Linked DNA regions of Homo sapiens. The protein of the gene in region 1 interacts with the protein of each later gene in a pairwise test. Each region holds a gene or a part of one and is shown in the gene's direction. Other genes may lie near its edges.

The links.
Region 2: the proteins of FURIN (region 1) and MARCHF1 interact in a protein complementation assay, tested with the Homo sapiens proteins (2 studies listed by BioGRID).

Annotation. Positions count from the first base shown.
Region 1 is NC_000015.10:90,878,578-90,881,419, forward strand, and holds part of FURIN (furin isoform 1 preproprotein), read left to right. Parts: intron 1-186; coding exon 187-399; intron 400-866; coding exon 867-967; intron 968-1,093; coding exon 1,094-1,197; intron 1,198-1,289; coding exon 1,290-1,407; intron 1,408-1,516; coding exon 1,517-1,696; intron 1,697-2,113; coding exon 2,114-2,238; intron 2,239-2,352; coding exon 2,353-2,463; intron 2,464-2,708; coding exon 2,709-2,842. UniProt on the Homo sapiens protein: Ubiquitous endoprotease within constitutive secretory pathways capable of cleavage at the RX(K/R)R consensus motif. Mediates processing of TGFB1, an essential step in TGF-beta-1 activation.
Region 2 is NC_000004.12:163,530,496-163,534,152, reverse strand, and holds part of MARCHF1 (E3 ubiquitin-protein ligase MARCHF1), read left to right. Parts: intron 1-3,657. UniProt on the Homo sapiens protein: E3 ubiquitin-protein ligase that mediates ubiquitination of TFRC, CD86, FAS and MHC class II proteins, such as HLA-DR alpha and beta, and promotes their subsequent endocytosis and sorting to lysosomes via multivesicular bodies.

The DNA of each region.
Region 1 (2,842 bases):
TGGTCTGATTTTTTGTGTGCCTAGATAGACATATTTGGATACATACTTGATCCACCAGGGATCTCACAGGGGACAGGAGGTTCCCAGAGAATGAGGCTCCAGCCTTCCCAGTTTTCCAGCAGTGTCCTCCTGCCAGCCCTCCCTCAAGTCCCAATCTTGAATGACCCCAGCCCACTCTGTCCACAGGGCCGAGGGGGGCTGGGCTCCATCTTTGTCTGGGCCTCGGGGAACGGGGGCCGGGAACATGACAGCTGCAACTGCGACGGCTACACCAACAGTATCTACACGCTGTCCATCAGCAGCGCCACGCAGTTTGGCAACGTGCCGTGGTACAGCGAGGCCTGCTCGTCCACACTGGCCACGACCTACAGCAGTGGCAACCAGAATGAGAAGCAGATCGTGAGTCTTACCTGGGGGTGGGGGCTGGGGAGATGGGGCTGCTGGCTGGCTCTGTCCAGCACCCTCTTTTGGAGGCTGTCTGCCTCCACCCCCATGTGGCTGGGTGATAGTGGCTCAGGCATCATGCAACATGAACTCTGGGGCTCTGTAGGTTCTTGGAGGCCATGGAGCCATCTCTGAAGACTTTGAAAAGCCTAGACTCTCTCTAAAAACATACTTTGTTCTTATTCATCTCCACCCTCTAGTTGAACCCCCTTATTCCTTTGGAAAATGAGGCCCAGGAGGGGCTCGTCATTAGCATGTCCACGGCAAGTTAGCAAGGCAGCAGCTGGGACCTGGGGTTCTTGGCCCTGGCTCCCCATACCATCTGTGGTGCCCAGGGCCTGTATGCAGAGGGAGGGTAGGCAGGTGGCTCCTCTAGCCCCCTCCACCCATCACAGGCCCCAATATGATTCTCTTCCTGGCAGGTGACGACTGACTTGCGGCAGAAGTGCACGGAGTCTCACACGGGCACCTCAGCCTCTGCCCCCTTAGCAGCCGGCATCATTGCTCTCACCCTGGAGGCCAAGTAAGTGGGTGGGGGCCAGCGGCAACCCTGTCCCTACCAGCACTCTCTGTAGGGCAGCCCTTAGGGCAGCTGGAGAGCTGCTCCCAAAAAAGACTGATCCCCAGCCTCTCCCTTCCTTCTTTGCAGTAAGAACCTCACATGGCGGGACATGCAACACCTGGTGGTACAGACCTCGAAGCCAGCCCACCTCAATGCCAACGACTGGGCCACCAATGGTGTGGGCCGGAAAGGTGAGGGCAGGCTGGCCCGGCAGGCTGGATGTGGAGTTAGGTAGAAGGCACTCTGTGCCTGACAGCTGACCCTACCTTCCCTGTCCCCACAGTGAGCCACTCATATGGCTACGGGCTTTTGGACGCAGGCGCCATGGTGGCCCTGGCCCAGAATTGGACCACAGTGGCCCCCCAGCGGAAGTGCATCATCGACATCCTCACCGAGCCCAAGTGAGGGCTGGACCCAGGCTGGGAGGGGGCCAGTGGGACCTGAGAGTCGCAGGGGGTGCCCGCTGGTCCCTCTGGGCCAGGCTGACCATCATGGTGCTCTCCTGCACAGAGACATCGGGAAACGGCTCGAGGTGCGGAAGACCGTGACCGCGTGCCTGGGCGAGCCCAACCACATCACTCGGCTGGAGCACGCTCAGGCGCGGCTCACCCTGTCCTATAATCGCCGTGGCGACCTGGCCATCCACCTGGTCAGCCCCATGGGCACCCGCTCCACCCTGCTGGCAGCCAGGTGCTTGCTCTGTCCCTGCCCGCCCTGCCCAGCGCCGCCGCCTCTCACAGCCCGCGTGCTTGCCTTTGCTCGCTCACACGGCCCAGGGGGCACTGAGTGCTACTCAGTGGGGCACTCTTGGCATTTTGGGAGGGACAATTTTGTCCTGTGGGACTGTCCCATGTTGCAGGAATCCCTGGCTTGCAACCATTTAATGTCAGTAGTGTGCCCCACCTTGTGCGGTGCCTGTGTACCTTTCTAGAATCCCCCAGTTGAGCACGTCTGGCTCACTGAGAAACAGCCAAGCCAGCAGGCACTTCTGGCCCCATGGGGTTGGTCTGCGTGGGGGAAGGGTGTGTGGCCCATGTGCTGTGGGTTAGATGTCCCTGGCTTGGGGTCCCGCAGAGGCCTCAGGGCTGTGTGCACTCCCCTCCCCAGGCCACATGACTACTCCGCAGATGGGTTTAATGACTGGGCCTTCATGACAACTCATTCCTGGGATGAGGATCCCTCTGGCGAGTGGGTCCTAGAGATTGAAAACACCAGCGAAGCCAACAACTATGGTACTGGGGGCACTTGAGGGGTAGGGGTACGAGGTGGAGGGCTGGCAGGATCTCGAGCACTGGGTGTGGTGCCAGCACTGTCTTAACTCTTGCCTCCTCCCCGCTCTGGAACAGGGACGCTGACCAAGTTCACCCTCGTACTCTATGGCACCGCCCCTGAGGGGCTGCCCGTACCTCCAGAAAGCAGTGGCTGCAAGACCCTCACGTCCAGTCAGGCCTGTGTGGGTCAGTAGTGGGTGCTGTTGGGCTTTGGGGGCCTGAGTCTGGGGGTAAGGCGGGTGCCTGTCCTGAAGCCCAGCTCTAACAGAAAAAAGTCTCAAGAGACCTAGGGCCCCTGGGGCTCTTGGGATGACCACAGTCCTGGGGCTGGAGGATCCTGGGGATGTGGTGACTTGGCTTGGGGCTGCTGTGGTCCTGGGGCTACAGTCTGTTTAGCTGACACACACTTGCCCTCTCTCCCACGCCGGCAGTGTGCGAGGAAGGCTTCTCCCTGCACCAGAAGAGCTGTGTCCAGCACTGCCCTCCAGGGTTCGCCCCCCAAGTCCTCGATACGCACTATAGCACCGAGAATGACGTGGAGACCATCCGGGCCAGCGTCTGCGCC
Region 2 (3,657 bases), on another chromosome or scaffold:
TTCTGAAAGATTAGTAGAAGTTTATTGTAAAGAGCGCGGCACTCTAAACAGAGGAATAGCATGTGCTAAAGCTTAAACCTATATTAGGATGTGCAATGTTTGGAAAACAGCTACCCAGATAGGACTTTGGATAAAGTTTACTAAGAAAGGCACTGGATGAGAGAAATCAGGCAGCTGAGGATGACGATAAAATAAATAGAGGTATAGATCATGAGCATTTATTGTGCAAGACTGCAGCAAATTTTAGGCACAATAAACTCCATTGGGCATGGCTAAAAAGAAATGGAGTGTTTTTGTGCAATAGTTTCCATAAATATATCATGCATACATTACCAATTTCCAAATACCTAAATGCTCACAAACCCATCTCTTACTCGAAGAAATTCTATAAACTGACCTAGACACAGTGATGAATTCATGGAACTAATCTCTCAAGTAAGGAGCTAATATATATAAATATATATATATATATTATATATAAAAGACTATTTTTGGAGCAGATTTAGGTTAACAGAAAAATTACAAAGAAGGTAAAGAGAGAGTTCCCACATACCACCCTGCACATACACAAGGTTTCTCCTGTTATTAACATCTTGCCTCAACGTGGTACATTTGTTACCACTGAGGAGCCAATATTCTTACATTATTAAAGTTCATAGTTACATTGGGGCTCACTCTTTGTGTTGTACAGTTCTATGAGTTTTGACAAACGTGTAACGTCCTGTGTCCACCGTTACAGAATCATACAGAATGGTGTTGCCGCCTTAAAAAGTCCCTGTGTTCCACCTATTCATCCCTTCCTTTCTCCTCCTAAACTGTTGGCAAACACTGATCCTACTATCTCCAGTTTTGCCTTTTCTAGAATGTCACATAGTTGGAATCACGCAGTATGTAGCTTTTTCAGACTGACCTCTTTTATTTAGCAATATACATTTAAGGTTTCTTCGTGTCCTTTTGTAGCTTGATAGCTCATTTCTTTTTAATCACTAAATAATACTCCATTACATGGATGTATCACAGTTTATTCATTCACAGATTGAAAAACCACTTGGTATTTCCAGCTTTGAACAAATATATGAATAAAGCTGCTACAAACATTTGTGTGCAGGTTTTTGTGTGGACGTAAGTTTTTGTTCATTTGAATAAGTATAATGTTGTATCATTTGAAAAGCTGTGGTTACCATTGTAAAAAACTGCCAGACTGTCTTCCAAAGTGACTGTACCATTTTGCATACCTATCAGCAATGAATGAGAATTCCTGCTTGTCGTTCCACATCCTTTCCAACGTTCAGTGTTTTCAGTGTTCTTTTTTAAAACTTTAGCCATTCTAATAGGTATATAATGATATCTTGTTTTAATGTGCAATTCTCTAATCACATATATTAATAATCTTACCATCTGTTTATCTTCATTGATGACATATCTGTTCAAATCTTTTGCTCATTTTGTAATTAGGTTATTTTCTTATCATTGAATGTTAACAGATCTTTGTATATTTTGGATACAAATCCCTTTTTCAGAATATGTTTTGCAAATATTTTTTCCTGTGGCTTTTCATTCTCTTAACAGTGACTTCCTCAGAGCAAAAGGTTTTAGTTTTAATAAAGTCCAATTGATCCATTTTTCTTTTCATAGATCATACTTTGGTCACCTGAATTTTCTTATCTTTTAGAAGCTGTATAGTTTCACAGTTTACATTTAGTTCTATAATCCATTTTGAGTTAATTTTTGTGAAAAATTTAAGGTCTGTTTACAGACTCATTTATTCGCATGCAGATATTGTTATACCAGCACCCATTTGTTAAAAAGACTATCCCTTCTCCATTGAATTGCCTTTGCTCCTTTGTTAAAGATCAGTTTCCTATATTTGTATCAGTCTATTTCTGGGCTATTCTGTTTCAATGATTTATTTCTTTATTCTTTCATTGATACCACACTGTCTTGATCACCGTAGTGGTAGTAATCAAGGATAGTGTCAGTTTTCAAAAACTTTATTCTTCCACTTCAATATTGTGTTGGCTATTCTGGTCTTTTGCTCTCCATATACACTTTAGAATCAGTTTGTCAATATCCATAAAATAACTTGCTGGAATTCTGAATGGGATAGTATTGAATCTGTAGATCAAACTGGGAAGAATAGATATCTTAATAATATAATATTAAGTCTCCCTATCCATAAATGTGGAACATCTTATTTCATTCAGATATTCTTTTATTTCCTTCATCATAGCTTCATAGTTTTTCTCACATAAATCTTGTACATATTTTGTTAGGTTTACACCTAAGGTTTTTGTTGTTGTCATTGTTTTTGTTTTGTTGGCACAAATGTAAATGGGCTTATGTTTTTAATTTCAAATTCTGGTTGTTCACTGCTATATATAGGAAAGCAATTGACTTTTTGTAAAACTTTGTATCCTGCAACATTGTCATAATCACCTATTTAAAAAAAAAACTTAATCAGTTCTTTGAGATTTTATACATAATCATATCATTTGTGAACAAAGATAGTTTTATTTATTCTTTCTCAATCATCTTTTATTATTCTTGTTTTATTGCATTAGCTAAGACTTCCAGTGTGATGCGGAATAGGCATGGTAAGAAGGAACATCCTTGTCTTGTTCCTGATCTTAGGGGGAAAGCATCTAGTTTCTTACCATTATGTCAGCTATAGGTTTTCTATGTTCTTTATCGCATTAAGGAAATTCCCTTCCGTTCCTAGTTTTTATCATGATTGAGCGTCGTATTTTGTCAAATGTGTTTTCTGCACTTATTGATATATTCACATTTTTCTTTAGCTAATTGATGTGATTACATTGATTTCTGAAACTTGAACCAACTTTGCATACCTAGAATAAATCTCTATTGGCTGTAGTGTGTAACTGTTTTTATACATTGTTGAATTCAATTTGCTAATATTTTGTTGAGAATTTTTGTATCTGCTCATGAGAGATACTGGCCTATAACTTTTCTTCATAGTAATTGTCTTTGCCGAATTTAGTATTGGGTAATGCTAGTCTCACCCGATTAGTTAGGAAGTATTATCTCTTCTATTTTCTGGAAAAGACTGTAGAACATTGATGTCATTTCTTCTTTAAATGTTTGGTAGAATCCACTAGTAAAACTATTTGAGCTTGGTGCTTTCTGCTCTGAAAGGTTATGGTTGATTTAATTTCTTTAATAGATCTAGGGATATTTAATTATCTGCCTATTAATTACACCTGCCACTGTAATGATCTCTTATTTCTCCTGTGTGAGCTTTGGCCAATGATATTTTGAAGTATTATTTCCATTAGGATTAAGTAAATATTCAAGATGATGACTACTATGAATTATTCAAGTCATAAAGAAGTCCTTGCGTATTAGGAGTTAGTTAGAAAAAATTTACCTTTGCTACCGGTAAAGGTTCTAATAAATTTGATTGCATATATTTAATCTACTCAAAAACTAAGTTCAGATTTGATTGCTGAAAGAGGCATAGAAATTTATTTTAAATTGACAGTGCCAAACAGAGCAACAAATTAATGAAACATCAACAACAGTGAGAGGCTTTTCATGTTTTCTTACAATCCCTTTTAAGATCAGAGAACATTTTTTCCCCAAAAATTTCAAAGGAAGAGTCAGAGCCAAAGCATTTTGAAAAGAAAAAGAGTTTACTTG